2 linked regions of the Homo sapiens genome follow. The protein of the gene in region 2 interacts with the protein of the main gene of each other region in a biochemical or structural test. Each region holds a gene or a part of one and is shown on either strand. Other genes may lie near its edges.

Evidence for each region. Proteins that work in one complex are often made in the same cells at the same time.
Region 1: of the proteins of GLI1 (region 2) and MAP3K2, one has a biochemical effect on the other in vitro, tested with the Homo sapiens proteins (one study listed by BioGRID).

Annotation. Positions count from the first base shown.
Region 1 is NC_000002.12:127,381,476-127,384,975, reverse strand, and holds part of MAP3K2 (mitogen-activated protein kinase kinase kinase 2), read left to right. Parts: intron 1-3,500. UniProt on the Homo sapiens protein: Component of a protein kinase signal transduction cascade. Regulates the JNK and ERK5 pathways by phosphorylating and activating MAP2K5 and MAP2K7. Plays a role in caveolae kiss-and-run dynamics.
Region 2 is NC_000012.12:57,462,785-57,466,284, reverse strand, and holds part of GLI1 (zinc finger protein GLI1), read right to left. Parts: exon of another isoform or gene 3,313-3,500; intron 2,621-3,312; 5' UTR 2,594-2,620; coding exon 2,494-2,593; intron 2,287-2,493; coding exon 2,194-2,286; intron 1,613-2,193; coding exon 1,417-1,612; intron 1,175-1,416; coding exon 1,030-1,174; intron 679-1,029; coding exon 589-678; intron 498-588; coding exon 360-497; intron 46-359; coding exon 1-45. UniProt on the Homo sapiens protein: Acts as a transcriptional activator. Binds to the DNA consensus sequence 5'-GACCACCCA-3'. Regulates the transcription of specific genes during normal development.

The DNA of each region.
Region 1 (3,500 bases), on a different chromosome or scaffold from region 2:
TCACTAGGAGTAGATTCCATCTCAAGAAGCCACTTTCTGTCCAGGCGTAATGGGGTCACGCTTATAATCCCAGCAGTTTGGGAGGCTGAGGCAGGAGGATTGCTTGCGCCAAGGAATTCAAGAACAGCGTGGGCAACATGGCAAAATCCCATTAAAAAAATATAGAGGTTAGCCGGTTGTGGTGATTTGGGAAGCTGAAGCAGGGAGAGTGCTTGAGCCGGGGAGGGGAGGTCAGGGCTGCAGTGAGCTGTGGCAGTGCAGACCAGCCTGGGCAACAGAGCAAGACCCTGTCTTAAAAAAAAAAAAAGGCCACTTTGTTTCCTCATCCATAAGAAGCAACTTTTCATCTGTTCAAGTTTTAGCTCTGCTTCTAATTGTAGTTCTCTTGCTCTTTCCGTCACATCTACAGTTACTTCCTCCACTGAAGTCTTAAACCCCTCAAAGTCATCCATGAGGGCTGGAATCAGCTTCTTCCAAATTCCTGTTAATGTTGATATTTTGACCTCCTCCCATGAATCATCAGTGTTCTTAATGGCATCTAGAATGATGAATCCTTTCCAGAAGGTTTTCAATTTACTTTGCTCAGATCTGTCAGAAGAATCTGATCACTGTCTATGGTAGTTATAGCCTTACAAAATGTATTTCGTTTGTTTTTCTTTTTTTAGTTTCACAGTGCGTATAAAGTTATGTTTACAATATACTGTAGTCTGTTAAGTGTGCAATGACATTCTAAAAAAGCAATATATATATATATATATATATCAATTAAAAATTATTTGTTGGCCGGGCACGGTGGCTCACGCCTGTAATCCCAGCACTTTGGGAGGCCGAGGCGGGCAGATCACGAGGTCAGGAGATCAAGACCATCCTGGCTAACAGGATGAAACCCCGTCTTTACTAAAAATACAAAACAAACAAACAAACAAAAAAAACCACTAGCCGGGCATGGTGGCGGGTGCCTGTAGTCCCAGCTACTCGGGAGGCTGAGGCAGGAGAATGGCGTGAACCCGGGAGGTGGAGCTTGCGGTGAGCAGAGATGGCGCCACTGCACTCCAGTCTGGGTGACAGAGCGAGACTCCATCTCAAAAAAAAAAAAAAAAATTATTTGTTGCCAAAAAAATGCTAGAAGAACATCTGAGCCTGGCTCAGGCTAGCCTAATTTTTTTATTTTTATTTCTATTTTTAGAGTTAGCATCTCAATGTGTTGCTCAGGCTGGTTGCAAACTCTTTGCCTCAGATGGTCCTCCCACTTTGGCCTCCCAAAATGTTGAGATTACAGGCATGAGCCACTGTCCTGGCTGTATTTCTTAAATTAGGAAATGCATCCAAGTTGGAAAAGTCAAAATACCCTATTCCCTGATGACATGATCTCTGTCATATTTAGAAAAACCTAAGGATGCCACCAAAAACCTCTTGAATTTGACAAATAATCCAGTAAAGTGTCAATACAAAATCAGTGTACAAAAATGAGGAGCATTTCTATACACCAATGACGATCCAACTGAAAACTAAATCAAGAAAGCAATCTTCAAAAAAAGAAAAAATCCACCTAGAAATGTATTTAACCAAGGAGGTAACAGATCTCTATAAGGAGAACTACAAAGTCCTGATGTAAGAAATTCTAGATGACACAGACAAACGGAAAAACATCCCATACTCGTTGATTGGAAGAATCAGTTTTGTCAAAGTGACCATACAACCTGATATGGGTTGTTTATTTGTCTCCTCCAAGTCTCATGTTGAAATGCAATCCCCAGTGTTGGAAGTGGGGCCTGGTGGGAGGTGACTGGATCATGGGGGTGGGTGCCTCATGAATGGCTTAGCAGCGTCCCCTTGATGATGAGCAAGTTCATGTGAGATCTGGTTGTTTAAAAATGTGTGGCATCTCTCCACTCTCTCACTTGCTCCTGCTCTTGCCAAGTGAGGTCCTTGCTCCCACTTTGCCTTATGTCATGAGACCTCACCAGAGGCCAAGCAGGTGCCAGCACCATGCTTCCAGTCCAGCTTGCTGAACCGTGAGCCAATTAAACCTCTCTTCTTTATAAATTACCAAGCCTGAGGTTTTTCTTAAGAGCAATGCAAGAATGGCCTAATACACTACTCAAAGCAATCTGCAGATTGAAGGCAACCCCTATCAATATACCGACATCTGCTGGGTAGAGTGGCTCATGCCTGTAATCCCAGCACTTGGGGAGGCCAAGGCAGGCGGATCACCTGAGGTCAGGAGTTTAAGACCAGCCTGACCAACATGGTGAAACCCTGTCTCTACTAAAAATACAAAAATTAGTGGGACGAGGTGCCAGTAGTCCCAGATACTTGGGAGGCTGAGGCAGGAGAACTGCTTGAACCCAAGAGATGGAGGCTGCAGTAAGCCAAGATCGTGCTGCTGCACTTCATCCTGGGCAATAGAGTGAGTCAATTTGTAAGAAAACACATTATTATCTGTGAAGCACAATGAAAAGTGAAATAAAACAAGGTATACCTCTACTGAAAGAAGAAAACTATCAAACTAGAATTCTAGATCCTGGAACTATGTATTTCAAAAATAAAGGAGAAATAAACACTTCCAGATATCTTTTTTTAAAAAACACTATGAAGCAGAATAAAATGAAGCTCAATAAAATGAGATATACTTGTATATTATTTTCAGCTGAACTCTTTGAAACTAAGCTATGGACATTATGACATTTTACCTCTCAATATGTCACATGCATCTCCTAAAGTTAAGGACATTTTCTTACATAGCCAAAATACCATTATTGTTACTTTTCTTAGGTGCGATACTTCTTTCATATACTCTAATATATATCCATATTTACATCTCATTCGTACTGAATTGTCATTTGTGGTTTGTACACCCATCCCCACCAAATCAGGATTTCATCAAAGTTTATTCATTGCATTTAGTTGTTAAGGCTTTTTGATCTCTTATAGTCTACAGCAGTCTCACCTCTTACACCCTTTAAAAATGACAATGATTTTTTTTAAGAGATCAAGACAGTTGTCTTATAAAGTGACTCATATTCTCGATTTGTCAGATTCCACCCCCCTCCCCCCGTCATAGCATTGTTTAGCTTGTTCCTGTATTCCCCCATACCAGTTGTTAAGTGTAAACTAGATTTAAAGGGTCGATTAGTTTTAATTTCAACATTTTGGACAAGAATACCTAATAAGTGATTTAATATATTTTATATGCCTCCCATTAGGAGACGTACACTGTGCAGTCCCATTATTTGTGATACTAAGTTTGATTGCTTGGTTGAGAGGAGTAAGGTGAGGTATATTTTTCTCACTGCAGTCAGCAAGTAATCTGTGGCATGATAAATTAGCACTGTAATGCTAGCCTGTTCTCCAGTGATCTTTTACCTAATAGTTGTGGTATCTTTTGCTGATCCTTGTCAGGCTAACTTTTAAATTTCAGTGTTAATAAATGTTTGTTGGTCTATAGATGGAAACAAATCACAGGAATTAAAAAATATCCAGCTAGGTTAATCAGAATC
Region 2 (3,500 bases):
CACGAACTCCTTCCGCTCCCCGTGGATGTGCTCGCTGTTGATGTGCTGAGGGAGAAGATACAAAGGCTCTCCAAGGCTCTCCCATGACCCTGAGGTCCAGAACAGACCTTCCCTCCACCCCCTGTTCCTCTTCCACGACTCCACCTCAAGGAGGAAGAGGCAGGAGCAATATCATATCTCACATCTCAGGTCTTCCAGCTCCCTAAGGCAAAGCTACAACTTCTGAGCTTCTGCCTACCCAACTGAGCATTCAACCTCAGTCTCCTCTGACCTCCTGCCCTCAGCCGGATTCCACCATGTCCCACTCAGAATCTCCTAAAGGTTCTGGCTAGCCATTCCTGTTACCCCCTGGGGCTCACGTGCACCAGCTGCTCTTGGGAGTCAAATTCCTGGCTGCAGCCATCCCAACGGCAGTCAGTTTCATACACAGATTCAGGCTCACGCTTCTCCTCTCTCTCGAGGTCCTCCCGCCCATCCAGCATCCCCAACAGGGGATCCTAGGGCAAGAGAGGCAATCTCAGGGTCACTTGGGTGACAGCTTTAGTTTTGCTCAGGTCCCAGAGGTAAAGCTCCTGCCCATCCCCTTACCTGTATGCCTGTGGAGTTGGGGCTGGACATATCACCTTCCAAGGGTTCCTCCCGGCACTTGCCAACCAGCATGTCCAGCTCAGACTTCAGCTTCCCCAGGGGAAGAGGTGACGGTGATGAGGGTGGAAGTAAGCAGAAGGAAGAGGAAACCAAGCCAGGTCTTCCTGCCCTAAGTGCCCCCACCCAAGCAGCTGGAACCTCCTGGGTTTGGAAGGGACTTCCTCCTCAGACTACACTGGTGAATGGGATGGGCAAAAGGTGGGATCCCATTTGGAAGCGTCTGACTCAACTGCAAGGAGTGAACCCCAGCACCCACACCTCTTTACTTTTCTAGTACTGAAAACTTATATCCCTTGTCCTTCCTTCACCTTTCCCCTACAAAATCCACCACCCACCCACCCTGAGCTGAGGGAAATCAGGTAGCAATATGGGGACTCTCACCTGGCAAGTTGGGAAGGGTCCCCGGGACTGAGGATGTGGGATCATCCCACCCCGGGCAGAGTCATGGGGACCACAAGGCTGGACCCCAAAGGAAGGCGAGGGCCCTTTTTGGTGATTCATCTGGGCTGGGAATCCCAGAGATGGGCTGAGGAGGAGAGGAGGCAGTTACTTAAGACAATTAGGAAGTCTCAGGAAGGATTGGGCTATTTGGAGGATTTCTGGAAGACTTGGGATTTGTAGTGGTTGAGGCAGTCCCAGGGAAGTACTGAGGAGAGTTGTCTTTGAAATGACAAGGATTCAAATAGGGTTAGGTAGTTTGAGGGCTTGAGACTTTTAATGGACTTGGGTAGGGGCTTTAGGGGCCTCTTGGCCCGGGGCTGACTGCACCTCATGGTGCCAATGGAGAGATGACCGTAGGAGCCTCCTGGAGATGTGCATCGCGAGTTGATGAAAGCTACGAGGGAGCTGGGTGAGGTGCGGATAACCGTCTGCAGGTCCAGGCTGGCATCCGACAGAGGTGAGATGGACAGTGCCCGCTTCTTGGTCAACTTGACTGCACTCCGGGGAGAAGAAAAGAGTGGGCCTGGGGCAGGAGACAGCGGAGACGGATATGGTAAAGGGGCATGTCTCTCCATGCACCTAACCTATGGGTCCTGACTTGGCAAAACCAATGATACTTGATTCTGCTTTGCCCTATTGATGCTATCTGTGACTTTTTTTTTTTTTTTTTGAGAGACACAGAGTCATGCTCTGTAACCCAGGCTGGAGTGCGTGGCACCATCTTGCCTCACTGCAACCTCTGCGTTCCCAGGTTCAAGTGATTCTCCTGCCTCAGCCTCCCCTGTAATCGGCACTACAGGTGCAAGCCACCACGCCCGGCTAATTTTTGTATTGTTAGTAGAGACAGGGTTTCACCATGTTGGCCTGGCTGGTCTTGAATTCCCGACCTCAAGCGATCTTCCTGCCACGGCTTCCCCACAAAGTGCTGGGATTACAGGCGTGAGCCACCGCGCCCGGCCCCATCTGTGACTTCTTGATGGTGCTCTGACGCCTCACATCTCCAAGCATCTCCTCCTCCAAGTGAGATCCCCTGCCCTCCCACTTTCTCTTTCAGAACAAGTCAGAGAGGGGCAGAAAGGGAAGAGGTGTTGCCTGAGCCCTCACCCTCGGTGCAGCTGTTGGTCTCTCTGGCTGGCCCATAACTGTGGGGGCCGGACATGAGGTTAGCTTGGTGGCAGAAGGGCGGGCCAGACAGTCCTAGAAAAAAGAGACAGCTGGAATGGGAATGGAGGATACATAAACCTCACCTTAAAACCCCAGACATGACCTGATCCCAGATTCCAGGTCCATATGACATGGGGCCTCAAATCCTCCTGTAGATAGGAAACTGGCATGGGGTGGGGGTGGGCCCAAGTGGGAGATCTGCCAAATCCTCAAGGCCCAGGGATTGGTATATACACTGACCTTCTGTCCCCACACTGGGGGCCCCCTGACTGGGGAGGGGCCGGAGACAGCAGGGCTCGCCATAGCTACTGATTGGTGGTGGGGTCATCGAGTTGAACATGGCGTCTCAGAGGAGGGTGTGGGGACACTGCAGAAAGGGAAGGTAGGTATAAAGGTGGAGGAAATAGAGACTGTCAGACAGCAGTCTCAGGCACAGAATCCTGGGCAGAACATCCCTGGTATCCCCCACCCCTCTAAGACATCTGCCACGGAATTCGAGTTGAAAAGAGCATCACTGAGCCGGGCACAGTGGCTCACGCCTGTAATTCCAACGCTTTGAGAGGCTGAGGCGGGAGGATCACCTGAGGTCAGTTGAAGACCAGCCTGGCCAACATGGTGAAACCCCCGTCTCTACAAAAAAACAAAAATTAGCCAGTCATGATGGCGGGTGCCTGTAATCCCAGCTACTCGGAAGGCTGAGGCAGAAGAATCGCTTGAACCTGGGAGGCGGAGGTTTCAGTGAGCCGAGATGGTGCCACTGCACTCCAGCCTGGGTGACAGAGCTAGACTCCGTCTCAAAACAAAAAAAGCATCACTCGCTGAGTGAGGGGAGGGGTAAGGGGAAATGATGTCCCAGAGAGGCAGAGGCAGTCTTGTAGTCTGTGTACTCTGGGGATCTTCTTGGGAACTGGGTGGGAGCTTTGCCTGGGTGGGAGCTTTGCCTGTGTGGTCTGTGTGTAGAAGGCATGTTTTGGACTAATTGTGCCTATATTAACTTCAAGTGATTTTAGTAACATGGACCCTCTAATTCTTCTTGCTGTAACCCTGGGCCGGCTTTGAGGGTGGGATGGGAGAACTCGTGTGATGGATCTGACTTCAAGCACTGGGCGGCTCTGCTAGAGCCCGTTCCCCCTTCCTTCTCGTGCCCCTCCCCAGGGACAGCCCGTGTACAATCTCTGCAGTGTCCAGCAGAGGGAGCCCTAGCCACAGTCCCGACACAGAGCCAGGTGGGGCCAGGAGGGAGCACA